Homo sapiens: one gene and its partners. The protein of the gene in region 2 interacts with the protein of the main gene of each other region in a biochemical or structural test. Each region holds a gene or a part of one and is shown on either strand. Other genes may lie near its edges.

Region 1 (7,811 bases), on a different chromosome or scaffold from region 2:
TCTCAACAGGTTTGAGGCAAGACCATTGTTTCCAGTATGCACGATTTTTCTTCAAGCTTACCAACACTGTCCTCCAGGTGACGCTGGTAGAATGAGGAACATCAATCATTACAGGAAGGCAGTATTATCAAGTGAGCATTTTAATTATGAAGGAAACAGAAAACAAGTTAGAAGACTGAAGGCAAAACTGACTTGTTAATAACAGCAACATCACTAGTTTTATACTTCAGAGGACCTAAAGCCAAGATGTAAGTTTCAAGGTTACAGACTGGTGGCATCAGAATATATCCTTAACACATGTGTCCTGCTCCATCCTCCCTACAGCAGGCTACTTACCTGCCCTTCCCCAGCCCTGAAGAAAGCCCAGGTAAACCCAGAGGGTTACTGAAACTTACACCCTTTCCAAAAGCCTTAGTTAAGGCTGATGAGATTAATAACATAGAGACTGAGTCATCCCAGTAACATTAAGAATTTAATCTACAAACACCAAGTTAGCAGGGAAAGTGACCCCTGCCAGTCCCTTCCAATATATTCTTTTTTTTCTTTTAAAGAAAATACCTATAAGCACAATATATTCCATTTAGATGATGGGGGAGAAATGGTTTATCACCATTCTGAGATGGCAGAATTAAAGCTTGGATTGACTCTTCTACGCTGGGTGGCTTTTCCAACTCATTAATTATTTCAAATATAGATATTATAGATTCCTTTGGTTTACAAAAGGCTACCTTAACCCTCCAGAGAAGATCTATGGACACAAGTAGCTTGCTGCAGGAAAGCATTTTACAAGCCTACTAGAAAGCCAGTCTTTTTCTCTGCTCAAACTAGATTTCGTTCTGGTAACATCTCTCCATTCTTGCCTTTTTCCCCCATTTCAAGTTGCCTCAGGTTTCTGATTGTTCCAGAACACACCTTCTAGCCATTTTTCCTTAACCTCCATTTCCCCTTCCTTTAAACCTCGTCCCTCCTTTCTTTTCACCACATTTATTTCCCAAAGGGCTCCGAACACTGCAGTCTTTACGTCTCACTTAGAGGGTGAGCAACCACTTCATGAAAATGTGTGGAGAGGCCTCAGCCTGCATAATCCCAGCACCACTCAGTTACTGGGGAGGAGGGGCTTAAGTGTGACCTGCTGTGGACAGAGGCAGCTTTATCCCACAGAAAATTAAGGTTCAGGGTCCCTTCCAAGGAAATGCATTCGTCAGTCCCATTTTTGTAAAATATGCAAAACTATATTTTAGATTTTCTTTTAAAGGACCCCCTGAATTACATAAAGTTCAGCCTCCAGACCTAGACCGTCCCCCGGTCTGGAAGAAAACCTGCCTCACCACAACAGCATGCTAATAGTGCTCAAGTCAAGATCACCAACAAATCAACATACGGGCAACGGTGTTGCTGGTTTCCAAACACACCCAGTTATGTGTGTAACAAGGACACCAGAGGAAAGGCAACTCTTCAAGCACCTTTCTTACCTGAACAATCCTAAATATTGGCCCCAACTACATATTTCATCTGATATTAACATCAAAAGCCTTCAAATGAGCTTTCCAAATGACTTAAGATTTTAGGGAGCCTTTGTATTGGCAGTTTTTTTTCGGAACTCCCTCCAAAAGGCCAGCAAAGGATACATTTACTATAATCATGGGCAGTAATTCTCAGACTTAAGCCAGCTAAAAATCGCCTGTGAGAGCTGGTTACAATGCAGATGTCTGAGTCTCACCGCCCGAATTTCTGAATGTATAGGTCTAAGGCGGAGTTCAAGGGGATCCTCCCAGGTCTCAGGAGGTTGTACACTGAACATAGGTTGGTGGTCGCAGTTGTTCTACCACTGTGTGACCTTGACGCAGGGAGAGGAAATATTCATTTACAGAAAACGTAAAATAACGTGGAGAGAGAGTGAGATGGTAACCGGAACTCAGAAATGCAGGTGGTGTGTGACCCACGGTATTTTGCTAGGGTGTGGCTGGGCACGACTCATCCACCGGAGAAGCTGCAGAATCGATTTATGAGGGTCTCAGGAATGCAAAGACACACAGATTCGTCTCACCTAGAAGTCACGTTTCATTTTAATCTCCAAGCAGACAGCGCAGCAGCAAACCTGGGGCTGTGGAGTGGGGCCCCACACCCTCCGCCCACTCTCCCGCCCCCGTCCACGCCTAGACTGCAGGAAAGGGGTCTTCGCACACAAAGCCAGACCCCCAGGCGTGGGAAGATGGAACCAGAACAATTCGAACGAGCAGAGCAAAACAGATCGGAATTGCAGACTTCAGGTCGTGGCAGAGAAAACCAGCTGAGACAGGGCGCCACTTACTAGGTGATTCTTTATTCCAAGTTGGGGAACGGAGGAAGACGAGAGGGGGAGCCCCCGGGTCCGGTGAAACGCTCTAGGAGAAATGCGGCTCCTTCGCGTCCCCTAGGGCACCCTCTGCCCCCGGCCGGGTTCCGAACTAAGATGTGGCGACCCCGACCGGCCCGCCCCCCTTCCGGGGCTGCCTTCGCGATCCCGAACTGCACCCTCCCGGATCCCCCACCCTGGGCCCAGCCTCAGGAAGTGGCGGGGCGCCCAGCGGGAGCGGGAAGCGCGGGCTAAGGGCGGGCGGGCGGCCACGCCCAGCCGGGTCGCCGGGTCGCCCATGGCCGGGAGGGGAACGCGCCCGCGGCCATCCCCGTCCCTCCCCAACGCCAGGCCCCCCCCGGCCAGCCGCCCGGGCTCCCGGCGCGCTCACCGCCTTCATAGCGGAGGCCATGTCGTCGTAGCGCTCCGCCTGCTCGGCCAGCCGCGCCCGCTGCAGCAGCTGCTCCCGGTCCCCCATGTCGCTCGCGGCTCGGCCTCGCCTCGCGCCTCACACCGCTGGCTCGCTAGCCCTCCCGCCGGTCAGTCCGCTCCCCGGTCGCTGCGGAGGCCGCCGCCGCGCACGCGCACTGGCTCGCCGGCCGGCCGGAGGCTGCAGGCTGCAGGCTGCAGGCAGCGCCGCCGCTCGCGCCCTCTCGCTGGCTCGCCCCGCGCGCTGTGGCTCGCGCCGCGGACAACGCCGAGGGAGGAGACGCGGCCGCGCTGGGGGATGGGAGGACGGGACGACGCCTGCGCAGTGAGAGTGGCCAGGCCGGGCGGCGGGGAGCGGCGGGAGTGGGAGGGGGGAAGGGCGGGCCGGCCCTAACGGTCTATTTCAAGGTGACGTCACCTACTATAAATAGCCACCGCCGCCGCCGCCGCCCGGCCTGAAAGCCGCGCAGGCGCTCTGCGAGTGCTGCATTTTACCGCCGCAGAGATGGAGGTGGAGAAGGGAAAGCCGGGCAGGAGACTGCGGAGCCGGTGGAGGGGGCGCGGTGATGGCGGCTGCACAGGCAGTGCATTGTCATAGCCCCACCCTGAAACGCGCCACTCCATCCACGTTAGAGATCTGGCTTGAGAAGGGCCCCAAAAGCAAGCAAACATACTGGCGGAGAAGCCGGGAGACCGCGTGCCCCGAGGGGCGGGTCCGCCCAGCCCCGCCCCAGCCGTCCCGCCCGCCCCGAGCCCTGCCTGTCCATGCGTTCTGCTGGGCCACACCTTGTACTGGTCCGGGCAGGATCGAGTCCGACCCTCGGGGACAGCCCCGCTACACAGACACACACAATCGAACCCAACCTGAGACGTAGCCTTGGGCAGGCTGTGCCTTCCACCAGAGGAGGGGACTGGGTGGCCAGGGCGGGACAAGTAATATTCAGGACACATTAGGAGCCAGCCCAGTGCTAGTCCCGTACAAGCATCCTCCTCTTTAATCCTCACTACCCAGCCCACAGTGGGCACAGCTGGTCTCCCCATATTTAAAACGTGGAACCTGAGGAAAAGCGAGGTTAGTGACTTGCTCAGGGTTACGCAGCCTGTAAGTGGTGGGGCCAGGATCTGAGTCCAAACCCAGGCTGAACTTTCTCTTGTGGCAAAGAGCTGGGGTGGCCCAACTGGCTGGTCACTGAGCCCCTCCCAATCCTGGCTGGTATTGGATGCTGAGGGTCCCTTGTGCCAGGCCCTGGACTGGGCTGCCCGACAAGCTAGGAAAATGATGATTAAAACAAGGCCCCCACTTGATTTCAACACGCCAAGGGCAGTGCAGGAGAGGGGGCCTTGGGCTCGCTGAGAATTTTATTGAGCATCTACTGCATGCTCAGCCCACAGGGATAAGCTGGATCTTGAAGGAGAGTCAGGAAAAAGATTAAGGCCTGGGGTACAGCATTGGCAAAGGCTTGGCAGTGACCTGGGAGATGGTGAGAAGAGAGGCCTAAGAATGGGAAGTGAGGTTGGGTAAAACAAGATTACGGAGTCTTTTAAATGCCAGGCCAAAGATTTGAGGCTTCATCCTTAGGTAATTGGGAAGCCATATTTCAGGCCTGGAATCTTGCTCTAGAGAGTAAGACATGTTCGAAGGGAGAAGGGAGGGAACTGGAGACCAGGCCTTTTCTGGACCTGTTTTCCATCTGGAGAATTGGACTTAACTGTTTCAAGGACTTTAGAATAGATATCCACATGCTGAAATGTCAGAGCTGGCAGGACCCTTAGAATCACCCCTGTCTAACCCCTTATCCTGAATAACGGGAAACTGAGGTCTGAGGGAAAGGAGGGGCTGGCCCTAGTTTGCACAGCGAGTGAGCAGAGCTGGGGTCTCCATACCAGGTTTCCTGCCTCCCAGGCCTTCCTCTTCCTGCTATGATGCTGAAACGATCACACTTCTGGGGGCCCATGAAACAGGATTTGAATGTGGGTCTAGGAGGAGGCCACTACCCCAGGCTTCACCATGCTTTGAAGAGTCACTTTTGCTGTTGGAATCGAGGTTAACAAACCAGGCTAATCTTTCCCCTAGTGAATATATTTAAAGAGCATGCTAGATAGTAATGAATCATCCACTCCACCCCCCATAAGGATGGGGTCCCAGTGAGAGATGGGAGGAGGGCCAGCCCTGGATGGGGGGACCTCCTCGGTTCCTTCTAGCTCTTAGAGGGCTTAGAGCCCTTCCAGCTTTTCTGATGAGGTTGGACTAAGATTGATTTCAAAACAGTGAAAATTAGGTAGAGCTGGAGCATTCTAAATAATTGATTTCTGACATGTGTAAAGGACACTCTGGTTCTCCCATGAAGCTTTTCTTCTCACCAAACTTCCTCATCTCCTCTTCCTCACCTCCTACCCACCCATCAGCTCAGTGTGCTCTCACCCTGTCCCTACTCCTCCACCGTGGCCATCAGAGCCCTCCTTGTTGTCAAAGCCAAGGAGGTTTCATAGTGCCCACCTCCCTGGCCCTCTTGGCTGGACTGGGCACGACTGCTCACCCTTCCTTGACCGACTCTCCCAGCTTCCCTTCTGCTGCTCCGGCCATTGCTCTTCTATTTGCTGTATGGGCTTGTCTTCTAGCCTACCCCAAAATACTAGGGTTCCTCAGGGCTTTGTCCCGAGCCCTCTTCACACACTGCCCTATCCTTGGTGACCCCATCCTCATGCACTCTAAGGAACCATCTACCATGTTCCTAGTACCAGGCAAGGTGCTTTGCAGAAACGTGCATTTTTTTTTCCCTCAAGATACCCCTGTAAGGCTGGTCCGATTTCCTTTCCTGTTTTTTTGTTTGTTGGCTTTTGTTTTGTTTTGAGATAGAGTCTCACCCATTCACCCAGGCTGGAGTGCAATAGTGCTCTCTTAGCTCACTGCAACCTCCGCCTCCCAGGTTCAAGCGATCCTCCTGCCTCAGCCTCCCAAGTAGCTGGGGCTACAAGGCGCACGTCACCGCACCCAGCTAATTTTTTCAGAGAAAATTATTTAAACTCTTGTGCCTCATCTGTTAAATGGATTTTTTAGTCTTTTTTTTGGTTTGTTTTTTTCTCTAAGAGATGGAGTCTCGCTCTGTTGCCCAGACTGGAGTGCAGTGGCACAATCTTGGCTCACTGCAATCTCCGCCTCCCAGGTTCAAGCTATTCTCCTGCCTCAGCCTCCCGAGTAGCTAGGACTGCAGGCATGCACCACCAAGCCCAGCTAATTTTTTTGTGTGTATTTTTAATAGAGATTTCACCAGGTTGGCCAGGCTGGTCTTGAACTCCTGGCCTCAAATGTACCTCCTGCCTCGGCCTCCCAGTGTGCTGGGATTACAGGCATGAGCCACTGCGCCCAGCCAGTTTTTAAAATTTGTTTGTTTAATAGAGCTAGGGTTTTGCCATGTTGCCCAGGCTGGTCTTGAACTCCTGTACTCAAGCTATCCACCCACCTCGGCCTCCCAAGTGATGGCACTACAGGCGTGAGCCACTGAGCCCGGCCTCCTTCCCGTTTTACAGATAAGCAAACTGACACAGAGCTGTCCCATGGTTTAAACAAAGTCACACAGCTGGGAATGGGCAAAGCAAGGATTCAAACTCAGATCCATCAGACACCCAAGTCTGAGGGCCTCACACTGCCCCGTGGTGTCAGCTGAGAAGAGCTCAAAGTGTGACTCCCTGTTGGGGTCACTCAGATTATACAAAGCATACATAAGCCTCCCACCATGTGGCCTACACACTCTTACCAGCACACATCTTCTTTGCCCTTGGGAGAGAGTTGCTAACGCCCAAGAGCCTCATCAATAAAAATCAGGGTCACCACCTGCGACAGGTCACCTACTCCCAAGGCTCTACGTCCTATCGATAAACAGGGCCTTTGAACAACGTCAAAGACAGCACCTGAGTGAGGTGAGGGAGGTCAATGGTTAATGTCAAACACACTTTGTTGCCTCAGGGCTCAGAGCAGGTCCCCAGTAGAGGAGCCAAGTCTGGGTCTTCACCTGGTACAGGGTCTCACTCGGGGAACAGAACAAACCGCCCCCCCCCCCGGGTTCCTGAACACACGTGTGTGGTGTGATTTGAGAAAGAACGTGGTTCTTGTCTTGGGTTCGAATCCTACCCTGCCAGTGCACCAGCTGAGTACCCTCCGGCAAGTCACTTGTAAAAAGGGACCAATAGCCTGGCACAGTGGCTCATGCCTGTAATCCCAGAGCTTTGGGAGGCCGAGGTGGAAGGATCACATGAGGCCAAGAGTTCAAAACCAGCCTGGGCAACATGGCAAAACCCCAGTTCTACAGAAAACAAAATACACACACACACACACACACACACACACACACACACACACATTTTATATTTTTTTTTTCTTTTTTTTTTTAATGAAGTCTGTCTCTGTCACTGAGGCTGGAGTGCAGTGGCATGATCTCAGTTCACTGCAACCTCTGCCTCCCAGGTTCATCAAGCAATTCTCCTGCCTTGGCCTCCCGAGTAGTTGAGACTACAAAAAATATTTTTAAAAAAGAAAAACTGGCCAGCCGTGGTGGCTCATGCCTGTAATCCCAACCCTTTGGGAGGCCAAGGCGAGTGGATCACCTGAGGTCAGGAGTTCGAGACCACCTTGGCCAACTTGGCAAAACCCTGTCTCTACTAAAAATACAAAAATTAGCGGGGTGTGTTGGTATGCGCCTGTAATCCCAGCTACTCAGGAGGCTGAGACAGGAGAATTGCTTAAACCCGGGAGGCAGAGGTTGCAGTGAGCTGAGATCGCACCATTGCACTCCATCCAGCCTGGGCGTCAGAGTGAGTCTCCATCTCAAAAAAAAAAAAAAGGTCAGGCATGTTGGCTCATGCCTGTAATCCCAGCACTTAGGGAGGCCAAGGTGGGTGGATCACCTGAGGACAGGAGTTTGAAACCAGCCTGACCAACATGGTGAAACCCCATCTGTACTAAAAATACAAAAAATTAGCTGGGCGTGGTGGCAGGCACCTGTAATCCCAGCTACTCAGGAGGCTGAGGCAGGAGAATCGCTTGAATCCC
Region 2 (2,945 bases):
GTGACACCGGTCGGGTGCAGTGGCTCGCGCCTGTAATCCCAGTACTTTTGGAGGCCGAGGCAGGAGGATCACATGAGGTCAGGAGTTCGAGACCAGCCTGGCCAACATGGTGAAACCCCATCTCTAATACAAATACAAAAATTAGTTGGGCGTGGTGGCATATGCCTGTAATCCCAGTTACTTGGGAGGCTAAGGCAGGAGAATCACTAGAATCCAGGTGATAAGAGTTGCGGTGAGCCGAGATCACACCACTGCACTCCAGCCTGGGCGACAGAGCAAGACTCTATCTCAAAAAAAAAAAAAAAAAAAAAAAAAGTTTTATATGTGAGACTGGTCATTCATTTCTAGCTCTTTAGCCTATACATTTAATATCTGCGGTCCAAAAGGCTGCAAGACATTAGGAAACAAAATATACATAAATATAATGACATATCAGTCACTATTCTGTCAAGACAGAAGGCCTGAACTCAGCCATGTAAAATCAACCTAACACTTAAGTTTTAAGAAAGTCATTACATTTCAAAAAATTTTCCTCTTTATTTAAACATAAAACGCATTTACAACATGCAAGTTAACTTAAAATTAAACGGTGTCTTCCCAAACCAAGTATTTGTGAATGTATCTTCAAGCACTGAAAATAAACCAACATATTCCACAGGTAGACTCAGACTCTCTTCTGTCACCTCATGTCAAATGGAGTTAAGCACAAACTGAGAGTTACGCACAGTAGTTTTCTTAAGTTAGGCAAATAATTTAATTAATCGCCATGAATAAATATTCTCTTTATTTCATTGAGTTTCTCTTCTGAACCATCTATCAATGCCATTCAGAGGAACGTTAATATATCCAGTCAAAAAGACACTGCAAATTGAAATGTGTCAATATCCTAGATGATCAGAAATTTTCATTTTTAAGAGTAAGTGCTGTGTTTAATGACCTACCATAGCAAAAAGCAGTTCACTGAAAACAAATTTATGAAATTCTTGGTACACTTTATGAAAGTCTGAAATTATAAATAGAAAAGAACCATCAAGATACTTTTTAAAAACCTAACATTGTATATTCTGAACCACATGCTAATTAAAATTCGTTGTTCATTACACAGCACCAATACCCATGATACATCTTACAAGAACAAAACTAACATATTTGGAAAAAAGAGAAAAAAAAATTCTGCTTCATTTACGAATGTTGCCAAAGGAGGCAAGTTTTCAACTGAAAACAAAACATAAAGGTCTATGTGGATGCAGCCAAATGTTTCTCCATTTAGAAAATCATCATAAAAGGTGGCAGCACTTTTTTTGCTTGTTAACTATATTACTTATAACTGGCTGCACCAACATTTCATCTCAATTTTTGGAGTGTTTCTTCTGATCAATCCTAAAAGCAACACAATCATTTTAGAGGTTGCAGACTACAACAGCAAAGATTTTTGACTATTAAAAAAATAAATAAATAAATTTATATTTTAAATCAAAATTATTACAAAAGTGGAAATTACAATAGTTACGGAAATAGAAAAATAAGCCAATTATGATCTGAGTCTTCTGACTATGGCTCCAAATTTAATACAAATATCTGTGTATAAAACTTTTGCAAAAAGTTAATTCTGCCAGCAAGATCCTAACACAGAACTTTCCAAGTTTCTCTGCTAACCTTAAATCCCCATTCTCTGTGAATTTCTGCTAACACAGTTGCAGTCACCGCCCCCCTACCACTGATGAAGCAAATAGTGAAATCTCTTTCCCTATTACTTTTACAGTTTCCTAAAATAAGCTGTTGACTTACTTTAATCATCTGAGGAAAAAGTGGCAAAAATACGTATACACTTAGTACTGATTACAAAATTATCGGCTATGGCCAAGAAAATAATTTATCTAATGATTATTAGTGACTTGCAAACAATTTACTATTTCTAGACTAAAGAAATAAATTAGTGTACAAATTAGTGTAGCAGGTTAAAAACACCTCAGGGATTTCAGACCAAAATTGACCTATATATATTTTTAATTCATCATATATCTGTCCTGTTTCTTCATTTTTCTCAATTTCCACACGCTATAAATTTAGGTCGGCCAATAAAGTACTAACCGTATAAAATTATGTTTAATCCTATAATATCTTAATTCATTTTACTAATATTAAAGATGACAAATTATTACCTGTCCAATACTTATATTAGCTAGCAGGCTCACCAGAATAAAGCAGAGTATTTTAATTCCATCAAGACTTGTTGAGTACAGAATCAGGAAAAAGAGAAATATAATTCCTTTTCCAAACTCCCTTAAACTAAGATCTGCTTTTGATACTTTAAAATATTTCTATTCAAAATAACTCGGCAACAGGCATTTCATGAGATAACAAGTAGCCTTGCTCAGTCTCAAATGCCTATTAGGCATTTGTAACGTTTCAGTGCTCAAACAGTAGTTTTCAGGAGCAAACTTCAGAAACAATACAAGTAATTTTAACCCTGATATCATCATTTCAAGGGATTTTAAAATACAGTACTGACTGGATATATTTTATGGGCATGTAGTGTTGTTAAGTGGTAAAATTTAAAGACATTTAACCTAAATGTTCCATTTTCTCTTAAGAAAAAAAAAGGAAGACGTTTTAATAGGAAAAGAAAAACAAGAAGCAGTAGCAGCTAGGTAATTTAAACTGAGATTAAAAAATAAACATACACAAAAAATACAAAAAGTACAGTCCTATAAGGTACAGTTAGCTTGGCACAGTAAAGACTAAATTTAAGACACGATAGACAAACTGTGTAATAAATAGGGCCACAGTTGTAAACTGTCCTTTTTCCCTCCTAAGATGCCAAAATTGCACTCTAGTTGTGTTGGGAAGCAGCAGAGTTTACAAGAAGAGTAGGTAGGAAACAGCTGTACAGGCCAGGTATAATTTATACATTTTTTTTAAAAGTTATAATTCTACAATCCCAA
Region 3 (7,034 bases), on a different chromosome or scaffold from region 2:
GAACAGAGGTCACGGCAATACAGATCCTCTTCAACGCGCATGCACACGACACCCCTCCTAGCACCCATCAACACCTACGGCATGCACACACTGCAGTGCCCACGCACACACTGACTTGTATATGGCCTGCCCAGTGACAGCCCTCGGAAGGCACCCAGTGACTTGGGCTCCCCTGTGCTGAGGACCTAAACTGGGAAGGTGGCCTATAGCTGCAGGCCTGTCCAGGCTGCACAGCTCACCTGGTGGCTCCAATAAAGACTCTGATGGGTGTGGGGAGAGTAACTTTCCTCTTAATTTCAGAGAGGCTTTTGCTGTTTCCTGTCTTTTTGGTTGAGACAACCTGCTACCAATTAATGCCCAAACAGAGTATTGCATCCTCCCAGAGAGCACTGATTCATGACAGAAGTCAAGCTGAGTTATAGCAAGTAACTATGACAAAAAAGAAAACCACCTGGCGCTGAGCACTTGGTCTCCTTAAAACAAGTAACTTGGTACGCAGCACTTGCTCGGTTCCCACATGCCAGCTGCCAACTCTGATAAAAAAGCACCCCTTGCTGGCCAGGGGCATTCCACACGTACCAGGAGGGGCAGCACGTGACCTCACGACATTTTTAAAGTCTCCTGCATCACAGGTGCCCACACCACCACTGCTCCATATGGGAAAGCAGGACAGCCAGAGGGCTGTGCGACATCAGGCAAGTCACTGCCCCTATCTCTATTCCCAAGCTATCATCAGAAATGATTGTAGAAGCGACCCCACCTACCGTCCATGCTGCTGTGAGGATGAAACGAGGTAACAGAGGAAAGCGCCGCAGGAAAGCATATCTGGACCCAGGTACTGTTTCTGCATTACTTTCAACAGGATGCACTAGTTTTGGCTCTGTTTTATCACTAAGCAGCTGACATTACCCAGAGGATCCTTGACTATGCCTGCTAAGGAACTCTATGAATTAGTGACGGGGGTGTGTGTGTGTGTATGTGTGTGTGTGTGTGTGTAAGAGAGAAAGGGCATTGTGTGAGGACTTCTCAGGATGGTGGCAGGTGCCCATTTTCCTAGGGTTACCATGAAAGTTATTTCTCACAACAATCACTGCACTGAAATTATAATAATATAGTATTTTCATAGCCTCCCCTAACATGTAGCTGTAACCTTAGTAAAAGATTTGATCTATATTACACATAATTACTCACCCAGAAAGAGCCAACTATGAGCTATCCATGGAAATGAAGAAATAACACAGCAAATTCTCCAAACTGACAATAATCCCCAAATTCCCTATCAGTTGGCTTCGGAATATGTTTTTGTGCTTCTGCACCTGACAAAAGAAGCATCAGATATGTGGAAATTTTTTAAACTTCCAAAGGAATTAGAAGCTACACTTTGTGGATTTTATCCCATATTTATCTTCCCTCCTTTTAGAGTTACTCTCAGGCAGATCAAAGCCTTAACCTGAGGAAAAGCTGCAAAAAGGGAAATTACTTTTAAATTTTCAGCTTCAAGTTGTAAGGGTGTGAGGTGAGTCTGCATGTAGTAAGGTGAATGGGGAGGGGATTATTAAGATAAAGAACTGTTGTGACTTTTAAGATCTCTTCCTTTGAATTCCCATTGTGTGTCACAGAGGAATTAAGAAAAAGTTGATGACTGATCTTCTGAAGGAATGCATGCAGAGAAGTAAGAACAACAAGGACTGTGCAAAGATTGGGCTGATGGTAAGCACCAGGAAGGCCAGCAGGGGCAACTGAGGACTGACTCCATCCACCTGCCTTCAGTGCACAGTCAAACAGCAGGCAACGGGATAGACGATTAAGTTGAGGGAAGGGGAAGAGTGAATGAGTAGGGGAAAGGCTGGCAGGGTGTGTCTGAAGTTGGGTGAGAAAGTGTGGCTGACAGAGAGAAAGAACCTCAGAGGGAAAGCAATCCTCAAACTGGCCCAAAGATCCCCATAGTCGGCAGAATCTTCTTGTACCTTCAAGAAAATGGTATACAGAATCATTTACTGGGCCTTGGGGTTCCCTGGTTACAAGGTATTCTTGTCAATGACTAAAAATCTCCAGGCCACCAAGAGAGGTTAATTCAGACCCCCATCTGGAGCTCTGGGTAGACCTGGGAGGAAGCTGGAGCCCTGGAATAGCAGAACCTTTGTGCCACCATCGCTGAACAGGAGAAACCACCAAGGGCAGCTGTAGGAGCTCTGGCTCCAGCACTTGACAGGACAAAGACAGGAGATGGGAGAGAAGGGCTCAGACCACAGCCTTTCTTTCATGACGCTTCAGTACATGAGCTGTCCGGAGTAAAAAAAAGGGCTGCATGGCAGTGACAGCTACAGCATGACCTGGAAGACCTGAGAAGATTCAGGGTGCACGTTGAGTCGTGCTACACAGGATGAAGCTGGGGGAGGTCTGGGAGATTTCCAGGGCTGAGGCGGACAGCCTGTACCACGTTGCATTTTCTTAGCAACTCCCCAACTTACAGCCTATCGGATGCTGTTAGATTCTGACACATTTGGTACGAACCAAATGGCTATGACTTAATTGTGCATTGAAAACCGCATTGACAACCAGGAAAAACTGGGAGAATTTGATGCAATTGGTAGTGTTTCTGGTTGATACTGCAAATAAATAAATAAATGTATTCAAACTGAATAAAGCAATACATGATGTAATAAAAATTACTTAAACTAATTATAATACAAATATAGTAGGACCTTCTAAAAGCATGTACATAAATCATGTACATTTAAGAAAGGTTACAGCTACACAAACTTGTGATTTTACATTTGATTAATCCTAAGGAATTGACAGGCACTACACACTGGTCTTTCCATCAGAGAATGGACTTACTGAGTAACTGCAGCTTTTTCTCTCTAGAATCTAAGGGCTGAGAAGAGAGAATTTTAAATGTGGAGGAGATGTTAAGAATCAGTGTCCAACTCTCTTATTTTATAAACGAGGAACTTGAGGCCCATGTAAATTAACAGACAGTATTTATCTTTTAATAACAATCTTTATCACTGATATGAAGCTGTTTGACTTCCATAAATATTGCACATATTTTAATAAGATTTATAGACCATCTAACAGTTAAATTTATATAACCTATGATTGTAATTCAGAACCAGAGTTTCTAATGAAAACTAATAATTTGCTTTTGTGCAACCTGAAGGATTTATTGTATAAGATTCCTAAGAAAAATGGTGAATATGTTTAACTAGAATTTCAGAATGAAAACTTACAGAATCTGGGTCTTAATGAACCAAATCCTCTGTAAAATTCAACAATCTTCTATTTCTTATATAAGTCTTCTTAAAGTATTTCTAATATGATGCTTTTAAAATTATCTAGTGGCATCTGAGAACACTTATAGAAGCTGCAAAGCCTTAAAAACTGAATCATAATGAAATATTTATTATATACCTTCTTTTGCATAATCAAAGTTTCAAGACCTGAATCGTGAATATTCTGACAATCCTCTCTAGATAGTGAGTGAGATTCTTTTTTTTTCCAAGGCAGTGTCTCTCTCTGTCACCCAGGCTGGAGTGCAGTGGTTCGATCTCATTGCAATCTCCGCCTCCCAGGTTTAATCGATTCTCGTGCCTCAGCCTCCCGAGTAGCTGGGATTACAGGCAAGTGCCACCACGCCCGGCTAATTTTTGTATTTTTAGTAGAGACAGGGTTTCGCCATGTTGGCCAGGCTGGTCTCCAACTCCTAACCTGAAGTGATCCGCCCACCTTGGCTTCCCAAAGTGCTGGGATTACAGGCGTGAGCCACCGCGCCCAGCCGAGATTAATTCTTAATAAATTAAGAAGAGAGAAAACCTGTCAAGGTTGAAAATATGCACTGAAGGAATCAGATCTGGTAGTTAAAAATAAGTCACTTCACAGAACACTGTACCCTGACGCAATATCCACCCAGGGAAAATTAATGAGCACATCAATGTAATACATCCTGAATAAATAATGACATCAACAATAGCCACTTTGTCTAATCCTACCCCTAAATGTCAAGCATTTTGTCATATTACTACATGACTTTCCAGTGTCTGCTACTTGTGCAGGTGAATCTGTAGGTATTTGCATATAATCCAGTTAAAACTGTGATCTGATTGAATTGTAAACAGAATTGACAAGAGAAACTTATTGTAGTGCCTAATATCACTTACATTTTAAGAAGACAGTATGTAGCAGCAATTTAAAATGCTCAGTAAACTATAGTACAAATGGACATCTATACTATTTAGCAAACCAACATTCCTTTAATATCTCTATATCATAGTGACACAAATGAGGAATTACTTTACATATTGCCAGTTTATTTCTTTGAACCAGTTTAACAATATCAACATAATTGATTACTAAACTGACATGATATGTACTCAATGGAGACTTTTCTTTCCATTCTCCTGTTTAGTGCAGAGGAGGTTCTTTGGTGCCTTCCTAACAACAGCTCATCTATGGAAGTTATACTTTTTATACCATTCAAACTCAGTGCTAAGGATTTAAAATAAATGCTGCCAGCTGAAGACACATTTTTCTCCTCCTTTCCTTCCTCCCTTCCTTCCATCATTCTCCTGTATGTAAACTCACGGTACCTAGTTGGTTAAGGATGAGTGTTGCTATAAAGATAACACAGCACGAAAGAGCCTATCTTTGTTTCCAAAGTGATGAAAGTATTCTAGGGAGATTTCCAGTTAATGACTTCTCATTTGGGAGATAATCAGTACTTTCTCTTTAAAAATGTATTTTCAGTAACTCACTGGAAATAATGGGTTCTTATTTCGGGCAAGAAATGTATTGTCAATTTTTGCCTGGACATCACTTTCAGACCCGTGAAATGAAGCCCAGGCCGAGGCTGGCTGGAATCTGGATGGTTTCTAGTGCGAGGGAAGATGGGTTGAAAGGAAAGGTGACAGGAAAGATGTGTTTAGCATCCATGAGCAGCTGGGGAGAGTCTTTCCTGTCTCGTAAACGCATCTGAGAAGATTAGGAAAAAAAATAAACAGAGCATCAGTTCTTTGAATCTAAAAGACTTTTTTCTACTAAAATTTCTACCCTCAAATTCTCAACTAATGAAGAATGTTTACTTTTGTTTTAAACTCACTTCATTTTCCCAATTAACTATTATCAAAAAAGTTAGTGCATTGTAAAATAAGATAATAAAAGATAACACATTATCCTTCAATAAATTACAAAATGTCCATTCAAAAGACTGTGTTGGTGAATCAAAGAAGAAGATGGGAGCTCTTACCTGTATAGTACGAATGAACGACACAGAGACTCTTTCTTCAAACTCATTAACTGGAGTATACAAATTCAACACTTTCACAATCTGTGAGAAATGAAATGATCAAAGTTTTTGGCATATTATCAAATACACACTGGGTACCTATAATCTGGAAAATTAAAAGGATCTGTGCGTACAGATTTCAGTTCTACTCAGGGGTGGGCTGGGACCAGAAGGAAGGAGGAGCTGGTCTGCACATTTACCTTTATCTGAATTTTTACAAGAGAATGTATCAATGTAATGTTTGTGTAATATTGTAAGAAGCTGTGTAAATTTCGAAGATATTCAAATAGCACAAGAGAATAAAACATGAAAAATAAATGTCCGCACTTCCATCCTTCCAGTCTCCCAAAGTGGCAATTGTTAACCATGTCCTGAACACCCCCTCTAGCTGCTATAAATATTCTAGTTCATTTTATTTTTATACAAATGGGATTCATTCTATTAATACTATTCTGCAACTTTTCTCCATATAAAAATGTTAGCCGTATTAATACAATTATCTCTTTTGAATGTTTTTTAAATCATATTTTTATAAAAGATCATAAATAACATGAATAACAAAAGCCCCTAAAGAAATTAATCAATTAGAGAGTATGAAGTTCTTTTTTAAAAAGTTCAATAATTTTTTTTTGTAAAATGGTCATGTCTCTTTTCTAATGAAAATAAATCATCGTCTATATAAGGTAGATATTTCCATTTTCAAGGTATTGTCTAAACCTGTGCTGTCCAATACAACAGTAGTAGTCACTAGCCACATGTGGCTATTAACACAAAATGAAAATAAAAGTTGAATGCAGGACAGTGCTGATCTATAGGAAAATAAATTAAGCACCAGAGAACTAGAAAGTGGGCATGTTGTTATCAGGTCTGTGGGTGACAAACTGAATTAGGGATCAGTCTCTCGGAGGCAAGTATTTGAATTTTAAAAAGTGGGACCACTTTGTTAACTAATATTTGCTAAATAAATAAACTGCAGGTCTGCCTCACTCTGTGAAATATGCTTAAAGTATATTTAAGTATTAAAGTATATTCTTTAGAAGTTGAATGGCAGCCAACTTCTATAAAGTTGGGCTTCCTCCAGGGTATTCTTACTTTCCACACTTGCAGAAACTGGGAGGAAATCTCAGGACCATTGTTCTGTCAGATAGTTCTGCTTTATTCTTAGTAAGAAGTTATGCAAACATGAATTCAACATTAAGAAGCTGCAAGTCTTGATTCTGATTGTCTACTGATTGACTTTTTTTTTTTTTGAGATGAAGTCTCTGTGCAGTGGCACAATCTTGGCTCACTGCCACTTCTGCCTCCCAGGTTCAAGTCATTCTCCTGCCTCAGCCTCCCAAGTAGCTGGGATTACAGGCACCCGCCACAATGCCTGGCTAATTTTTGTATTTTTGTAGAGATGGGGTTTCACCATGTTGGCCTGGCTGGTCTTGAACTCCTGACCTCAGGTGATCTGTCTGCCTCAGCCTCCCAAAGTGCTGGGATTACAGGTGTGAGCCAGCACGCCTGGCCTACTGATTTTTTCTGTTGCCCAGGCTGGAGTGCAGTGGTGCAATCTTGGCTCACTGCAACCTCCGTCTCCCAGGTTCCAGCAATTCTCCTGCCTCAGCCTCCAGAGTAGCTGGGATTACAGGTGCCTGCCACCATGCCCGGCTAATTTTTGTATTTTTAGTAGAGATGGGGTTTCACCATGTTGGTCAGGCTGGTCTCAAACTGATTGAGTTTTAATTGTATTGGGCAAAACTGAAAA
Region 4 (7,508 bases), on a different chromosome or scaffold from region 2:
GTGGCAGGCACCTGTAATCCCAGCTACTCGGGAGGCTGAGGCAGGAGAATTGCTTGAACTCTGCAGGGCGGAGGTTGCAGTGAGCCGAGATTGCACCACTGCACTCCAGCCTGGGCAACAGAGTGAGACTCCGTTTCAATAAAAAAAAAAAAAAAAGAAAGAAAGGAAAAAACACCCTGGAAATCAGAGGAATTGCATTTTTAGAATTGAAGCCTGAGACCAGAGAGGGTGTGACCTGTGGCTGAGAGCAACGCGGGCCAGATCCCAGATTAGCCAGGTCCGGATGCCAGGCAGCCCCTCCCTGGACCAGCACGCCCGTCCGGTGACTCGTCCCTAAGCCTCGTGCTGACAAGGAGGGTGAGCAGGCTGCGGGGAGGGGTCAGAGCTGTGTGGAGTCAACCAGCCTGCTCTTCCCATGGCCTGTGCTTCCCCCGCCCCAGCCCCTCCAGCCAGGTCACCCCTCCCAGCCAGAGGATGGGCACCTGAGTACAGCTGCCAGCCAGGGACAGGCTTCAGGCTGCCTCCACCCTGCCCTTCTTCTTCTCTCCCTCTTTCCTCCCCACCCTCTTCCTCCCTCCTTTCTTCAGGCATTCACAGACAGGGCTGCCCACAAGGCTGCAGATCCTCAAGAACCAAAGGGAAATTCCTGCCTGCTTGTCTCTTCCAAAAAGCCGCTCGCAAAGACAGACATCTACAAACATCTACAGTAAAAAGATGAATAGTGTAAAAAATAACAACTTCCTGTTCCATTCTCCACTTGAGACAAACGGGACTGCATGGTTTGTTGCATGTGGGCACTGCACTTCCTTCCTGTGGTCCCCCCACCTGCCACGGGAGTGTCCCTCTCCCTCATCTCCTGGATCCCCGAGGGACGCAGGGCTCCCCTCTGCACTTCTTCAGGCCTCTCATCTTAGTTCCTGCTGGCCGTCAGCTCACTTGTCCAGGGCACCCGGTTCTGTTGCCCAGCCTGGCACCTGATACTAGCAGTTCTCAATGAATACTGAGAATGACGTGAATATGAAAAATTGTAGGCTCTATGCTTGCCTCCGATGTCCCAGGGGCCTGGCAAATGGCAGAAGGTGGGTAGTTCCCCCCCTCCTTTTTTTTTTTTGAGACAGGGTCTCACTCTGTTGCTCAGGCTGGAGTGCAGTGACACAGTCATAGCTCACTACAGCCTTGACCTCCTGGGCTCAAGTGATCCTTCCACCTCAGTTCAGCCTTCTGAGTAGCTGAGACTATAAGGGTGCATCACCATGCCTGGATAATTAAAAAAAATTTTTTTTGTAGAGTCAGGGTCTTACTATGTTGCCCAGGTTGTCCATGCCTTTTAACCCCAGGCAGTACCTTAGGAGCCCAACCTAGGAGCTGCTAACGGCTCCAAGGACTGCAGGATCTCCTGAGGATCATGGCAGAAGTCAGGGACTTAAGGGACCCGAAGAGTCTGCTCCCCTTGAAAAGGGAGCAAGAGCAGCATCTCTGTGCAAAGGAAGCCTGGAGAAGCAGCAGCCCAGCCCTCCTCTCATGCTTGCTTGAGGGTTGCCCTTGCAGCTGCGTCAGGTGCTGAGCAGGCTGTGGGGAAGAGGACACCAGCCCCTCCTGTTCTCTGCTTACAGGCTGAGGAGAAGGCAGCTGTGTAAGCTGACCACATACTACACATTGGGGAAGGGACAGGTGGGTGGTCAGAGGAGGCCTTGACCCAGGCAGGTGCTGTCAGAAGCGGCTTCCCCCAGGAAGTGACGATCATTTGAATCCTGGAGCACTGGGGGGAATGGGGGAGGGAGAACATTCTAGGCACAGTGAATACTATGTACAGGGGCATGGCTATGTGAGAGACCAGGGTGAACTCAGGAACAGATAAGGGTGTTCAGAGCACAGGAGACCAGGAGGTTGGCAGCACCAGGCCCTGGGGGCCTTGTTGACCAACCCAAGGAATTTGAAGTTGCTGCAGACAGTGATGCGTGGCAGCACTGGTGGATGAATTGGCCTTTTCTCCTTTCCCCCAACACTCCAGGGTCATTCCTGCCTGAGGACTCCTGCCCTCAGAGCTCTCCTGGGGCTTTTATTTATTTTGTTTTGAGACAGAATGTGGCTCTGTTGCCCAGGCTTGAGTGCAGTGGTGTGATCTTGGCTCACTGCAACCTCTGCCTCCCAGGTTCAAGCGATTCTCCTGCCTCAGCCTCCCGAGTAGCTGGGACTACAGACGTGCGCCACCACGCCTGGCTAATTTGTTGTATTTTAGCAGAGATGTGGTTTCACTGTGTTGCCCAGGTTGGTCTTGAACTCCTGAAGGCAATCCACCTGCCTCGGCCTCCTGAAGTGTTGGGATTACAGGCGTGAGCCACCTCGCCGGCCTCTCCTGGGGCTTTGAACGCCTGCCTCCCTCCTCTCATTTGGGTCTCAGGTCACCCGCCTGCCTCTGAGTTCACCCCTGACCACCTAGACTCTGCCTGTTCCATCATCTTTGTTCCATCTCTGCCTGTTCCATCATCTCGGCAAGATCCGGTATTTCCTTATGTGTTTATGGCCTACTTCTCCTCACTGGAATGTAAACTCTTAGAAAGCAGAGATCTTATCTATCTTGTTCACCTATGCATCCTTGGCTGTTATGAGGATCATGGGAGAGCAACAAATATTTATTGAGGAAATAAAAGAACAAGGTAATAAAGCCAGAACAAAGTGGTGGCAGTGGAGATGGATTCAAGAAATACTGAGAGGCCGGGCATGGTGGCTCACACCTGTAATCTCAGCACTTTGGGAGGCCAGCTGGGAGGATCACTTGTGGCCAGGAGTTCGAGATCAGTCTGGGCAACATAGCAAGATCTCCTCTCTGCAAAAAATTTAAAAAACATTAGCTGGGAGTGGTGGTGCACACCTGTAGTCCCTAGCTACTTGGGAGGCTGAGGCAAGAGGATCTCTTGAGCCCAGGAGTTCGAGGTTACGGTGAGCTGATTGCCACTGCCCTCCAGTCAGGGTGACAAAGATACCCTAACTCAAAGAAATATTGAGGAAGTAGAATCTTTTCCACCTGTTGTAGTAGGGCGTAAGGGAGCGGTGCAGGCATCCCAGGTTTCTGGCTAGGGTTGTGGGTGAGCAGAGGGGACAGTTACTGGGCGCAGCGGCACAGAAAGAATGAGCAGTCGATGCTTGGCGGTGCCCAGCCCAGTGGCTGAACTTAGTGACATCCAAGCTGCAGTCTGGCTGAAATCACTAACCTGAAAGTGGTATGGAGAAAGTTTGTTTGACCCTGACTCAGTGCCTCTCCCCGGGCCAACCCTACCGTGTTACCTAGGAGCTCCCCCTTTGTCTTTATAAATGAGATAAAAGTAACCAGACCTCCCTGGAAAAACCGAGGAGCACTTGCTTCTCTGGTGACTGCGGGGCCTAACTGCAGGGTTCACAAAGGGCTGCTGGTGCTGGGTGATAACATCGGAAAGGAACAGCAGTTCACAAGATGGGGCTGGGGGACTGGCCCAGGAACCCCTCCAGGTTAAATGATGCCTCCGGGCCCCGCACTTGGGACGTCTGCAGGCACTGGGAGGGTTTTTCCCAAGCCGCTGGCAGCAGCGAGCGGAGCCTCGCCCATTGAATCAGCATGCCCTCCCGGCTGGCTGCTGAGTCAGGCCTGCGGAGCCGGCGAAGCCGCAGGACTTGACCCAGGCGCGCTCCGCTGCCCTTCAGGCCGGGCTGGAGGTCGAGGCCCTGCAGCCAGGGAGATGCGCCGGTGGCTGCGTGGGGACAGAGGGGGGTTGTCTCCCACCCTCACAGTCTACACCCCGGCCCTTCCCCTTTGCCCGTCTGAGGCGCAGTTTGTGTCGAGGGGGAGCGCCTGGAAAGTTTCCTCGTACAGATACGAGGGTCCAAAAGCCCCGAGGAGAGGGAATAATGAGAAGGGGAGGGCGCAGGGTTAGAGGTCAGGGTCTCGACCAAAGGCTGTCGGTTTTCCTGGAGGAGGGAGAAAGGCCTGGCCGGGATCATCTGATTCCGGGGCCTCCCGAAGGCCTCCTAGCTGGGTTTTGGGGGGACCGAAACGAGCGCATGAAGCTCGCGGGCCTGGGAGTGGGGTGGGGCGGGAGCCCAGTGGTGGCGGCTGCGGCCGGGCCTGCACCGTCCCCGGCCGCATTCTGGTAGGGCCCACAGTCCGGCTGGAAGGGAAGCTGCCGAAGCGCTCGGTCATCGCGGCTGCGGAGTCGGAGAGGCCAGGGCCTGGCCGCCCACCCCGCGAGCCGCGCCCTGCCCCGAGCGCCCCACCCCCGTCCGCGTTACAACCGGGAGGCCCGCTGGGTCCTGCACCGTCACCCTCCTCCCTGTGACCGCCCACCTGATACCCAAACAACTTTCTCGCCCCTCCAGTCCCCAGCTCGCCGAGCGCTTGCGGGGAGCCACCCAGCCTCAGTTTCCCCAGCCCCGGGCGGGGCGAGGGGCGATGACGTCATGCCGGCGCGCGGCATTGTGGGGCGGGGCGAGGCGGGGCGCCGGGGGGAGCAACACTGAGACGCCATTTTCGGCGGCGGGAGCGGCGCAGGCGGCCGAGCGGGACTGGCTGGGTCGGCTGGGCTGCTGGTGCGAGGAGCCGCGGGGCTGTGCTCGGCGGCCAAGGGGACAGCGCGTGGGTGGCCGAGGATGCTGCGGGGCGGTAGCTCCGGCGCCCCTAGCTGGTGACTGCTGCGCCGTGCCTCACACAGCCGAGGCGGGCTCGGCGCACAGTCGCTGCTCCGCGCGCGCGCCCGGCGGCGCTCCAGGTGCTGACAGCGCGAGAGAGCGCGGCCCTCAGGAGCAAGGCGGTGAGTCCCCGGCGTGCGCCCCGGACCGCGGCCCCCTCCTCATCCTCCGCCCCGTCCCTGTCCCGCTCCTCTTCGGACCCGCCCCGGCCGTAACTCTGTCCCCATCCAGGCCTCCTTCCCGGTTTGGGTCCCGGCCCCTCTCCGTTCCCACCCCGGTACCCGCCCCAGTTCACCGCCCCGGCCGGTCCGCGACCCCTTCCAGGTTCAGGTCGGGTTCTTGTCCCCGGCCCTTTTGCCAGCCCCGGCTCCCGGCGCCGCGCGTCCTCCCCATCCGCGTCCCACTGCAGGTTCCGGTCCCCGGCCCTGCCCAGGGCCCCGCCCTGGCCCCGCATCCCCGGCTTGGCCCTGCTGCGGGCGGCGGCGGCCGTTCCCGGGGACAGCTGTGGACCCCGGGAACCCGCGACAGGGGAGGTGGCTGACCCCGGGATCGCGGCGGGCGGGGAGGCCGGAGGCCCGGCGGGGCTGGCTTTGTCCGATTCCTCCTCTTCCTTCCACCCCCGCCTCTCCCGGCACCGCCCTGAGCGGACGCGCCTGTCATTCTCGCGGGCGGCGGGGGGCCGGGTCCCTCCCGAGAGCTGGCTCCGCTTTGCCTCCTTGGCGACCCCTTATTTTCAGTAACCAGATGCGAAACGTTTCAGGCGACCCTGTTCACCTAGGCTGGCGTTGCTCCAACTAAACTTGAAGCAGCCTCCGTCCTGGAATGCTTTTTCCATGTAAAATTGGGTGTACCCTTTTCCTTAAGAAAATTAAAATAAAGCGTAAAAGTAGTGAAATTAATGCGTGATGGAGTGGATGGTTTTATAACTTAACATTTGTAGGTCATTTCTAGGTATATTTGTATTAGAATTGTTGCTGCCTGTTACTGTTTTATTATTTAAATGAATTAAGAATTTACATATTAAGCGTTTGAAAAGGAATACTTACAAAAATGATGTTTTTTAAAAATGTGAGAACAAAAAATTTGAGATATACTATTTCAGGTGTTCTGTAAAAGGGCAGTTAGAGCTTTGATTCTTTGCATTAGTTAAATCCCAAGGCCTTTTTTTTTGGTACGGCATGACTAAGCCATTGATCAGAATCAGCTCGGAATACATTGCACTAGTTTAGTGAAAGACACTTTAGAAAACTGGAAGAACCTCCTGAAGTTATATTACAGACATGGCCTTGCTTCTTTCAGGGATTGTCAGCAAGCCTGTTATGGTGAGAAATTTGACCTATTGCTCTGTTTCCTAAATATTTGTAGGAATACAATGATACTAAGTATGAAGTATATTTCAACTTGTATGGAATTCTGTGTGGGAGGGTAGGCACTCTAAAGAGCCAGTGTCTCTCCAAGTCATCAAAGAATGCAGCATCATGTTGCAGTTGAGCCTGGCAGCCCTGTCTGGCACTGAGTGCTGTGGAGGACCCAGGTGGTAACCTCTAACCCTACTGCAGCCTTGGCATTGTCTTAGAGAAAAGCATCCAGACATGCACAGGACTCTGGACAGCGTTTATCTCCAGCAAGGGGGGAGGGAATGACACTGGGGAGAGGCACACAGTATCTTCAGTATTTCATAGCAAATAACTGCAGTCGTTTAAACTTACACATTTTTTTTTTTTTTGAGATGGAGTCTCGCTCTGTCGCCCGGGCTGGAGTGTAGTGGCGCGATCTCGGCTCACTGCAAGCTCCGCCTCCCGGGTTCACGCCATTCTCCTGCCTCAACCTACTGAGTAGCTGGGACCACAGGCGCCCGCCACCACGCCCGGTTAATTTTTTGTATTTTTAGTAGAGATGGGGTTTCAACATGTTAGCCAGGTTGGTCTTGATCTCCTGACCTCGTGATCCGCCCACCTCGGCCTCCCAAAGTGCTGGGATTACAGGCGTGAGCCACCGCACCTGGCCCAAATTTATACATTTTTAAAATTTATACATTCTTAGGCATGTTTCTCAATGTTGGAAAAAAGTCAATGTGTAACTTTCTGTATAGGGCCATAAATTATCTTAAAACATACTTGTATAAAAAGAAACCTAGGATAGAAAAATCAAAAGTTGAGTGAAATGTATGATTAGTATCACCTGAAAACATTCTTTGTAGATAAGTGGAATGTTAGAAACCAGTATTTTATTTTTATTTATTTAGAGATGAGTCTCACTGTGTGGCTCAGGCTAGAGTGCAGTGGTGTGATCCCCGCTCACTGCAACCTCCGCCTCCCAGGTTCCAGTGATTCTCCTGCCTCAGCCTCCCTAGTAGCTGGGATTACAGGTGCCCACTACCACACCAGGCTGATTTTTTGTATTTTTAGTAGAGACGGGGCTTCACCATGTTGGCCAGGCTGGTCTCAAACTGCTGACCTCAGGCGATCCACCCGCCTCAGCCTCCCAAAGTGCTAGGGTTACAGGTGTGAGCCATTGCACCTGGGCTGAAACCAGTATTTTATGTAGCAAAGAAATGATCAGTAATATACTCAAGACGAGAGTATTTGGGAAGATTTAAGTGTCAAATTTCAGGGCATAGAATAAAAGTGACAAGCACATTAAGATTGCAAATACTGGTCTTAAATGTCTGTTGGGAACCAACTGAATGGCAGGTACTGTGCTGAGTAGTCAGCGATACCTTGATAAAAGAGCCACTGTTGGCCGGGCGTGGTCATGCCTGTAATCTTAACTCTTTGGGAGGCTGAGGCTGCAGATCGCCCCTAGCTCTTTGGGAGGCCGAGGCAGGTGGATCACCTGAGGTCAGGAGT

Evidence for each region.
Region 1: the proteins of KIF5B (region 2) and YWHAH interact in far-western blotting, tested with the Homo sapiens proteins (one study listed by BioGRID).
Region 3: the proteins of KIF5B (region 2) and MYO5A form a complex in vitro, tested with the Homo sapiens proteins (one study listed by BioGRID).
Region 4: the proteins of KIF5B (region 2) and KLC1 form a complex in vitro, tested with the Homo sapiens proteins (one study listed by BioGRID).

The regions. Positions count from the first base shown.
Region 1 is NC_000022.11:31,939,736-31,947,546, reverse strand, and holds the start of YWHAH (14-3-3 protein eta), read right to left. Parts: upstream 3,013-7,811; 5' UTR 2,814-3,012; coding exon 2,727-2,813; intron 2,714-2,726; exon of another isoform or gene 2,181-2,713; intron 2,048-2,180; exon of another isoform or gene 1,869-2,047; intron 84-1,868; exon of another isoform or gene 1-83. UniProt on the Homo sapiens protein: Adapter protein implicated in the regulation of a large spectrum of both general and specialized signaling pathways. Binds to a large number of partners, usually by recognition of a phosphoserine or phosphothreonine motif.
Region 2 is NC_000010.11:32,008,498-32,011,442, forward strand, and holds the end of KIF5B (kinesin-1 heavy chain), read right to left. Parts: 3' UTR 518-2,945; downstream 1-517. UniProt on the Homo sapiens protein: Microtubule-dependent motor required for normal distribution of mitochondria and lysosomes. Can induce formation of neurite-like membrane protrusions in non-neuronal cells in a ZFYVE27-dependent manner.
Region 3 is NC_000015.10:52,308,878-52,315,911, forward strand, and holds part of MYO5A (unconventional myosin-Va), read right to left. Parts: intron 5,327-7,034; coding exon 5,246-5,326; intron 4,972-5,245; coding exon 4,819-4,971; 3' UTR 1-4,818. UniProt on the Homo sapiens protein: Processive actin-based motor that can move in large steps approximating the 36-nm pseudo-repeat of the actin filament. Can hydrolyze ATP in the presence of actin, which is essential for its function as a motor protein. Involved in melanosome transport.
Region 4 is NC_000014.9:103,624,714-103,632,221, forward strand, and holds the start of KLC1 (kinesin light chain 1), read left to right. Parts: upstream 1-4,497; 5' UTR 4,498-4,781; intron 4,782-7,508. UniProt on the Homo sapiens protein: Kinesin is a microtubule-associated force-producing protein that may play a role in organelle transport. The light chain may function in coupling of cargo to the heavy chain or in the modulation of its ATPase activity.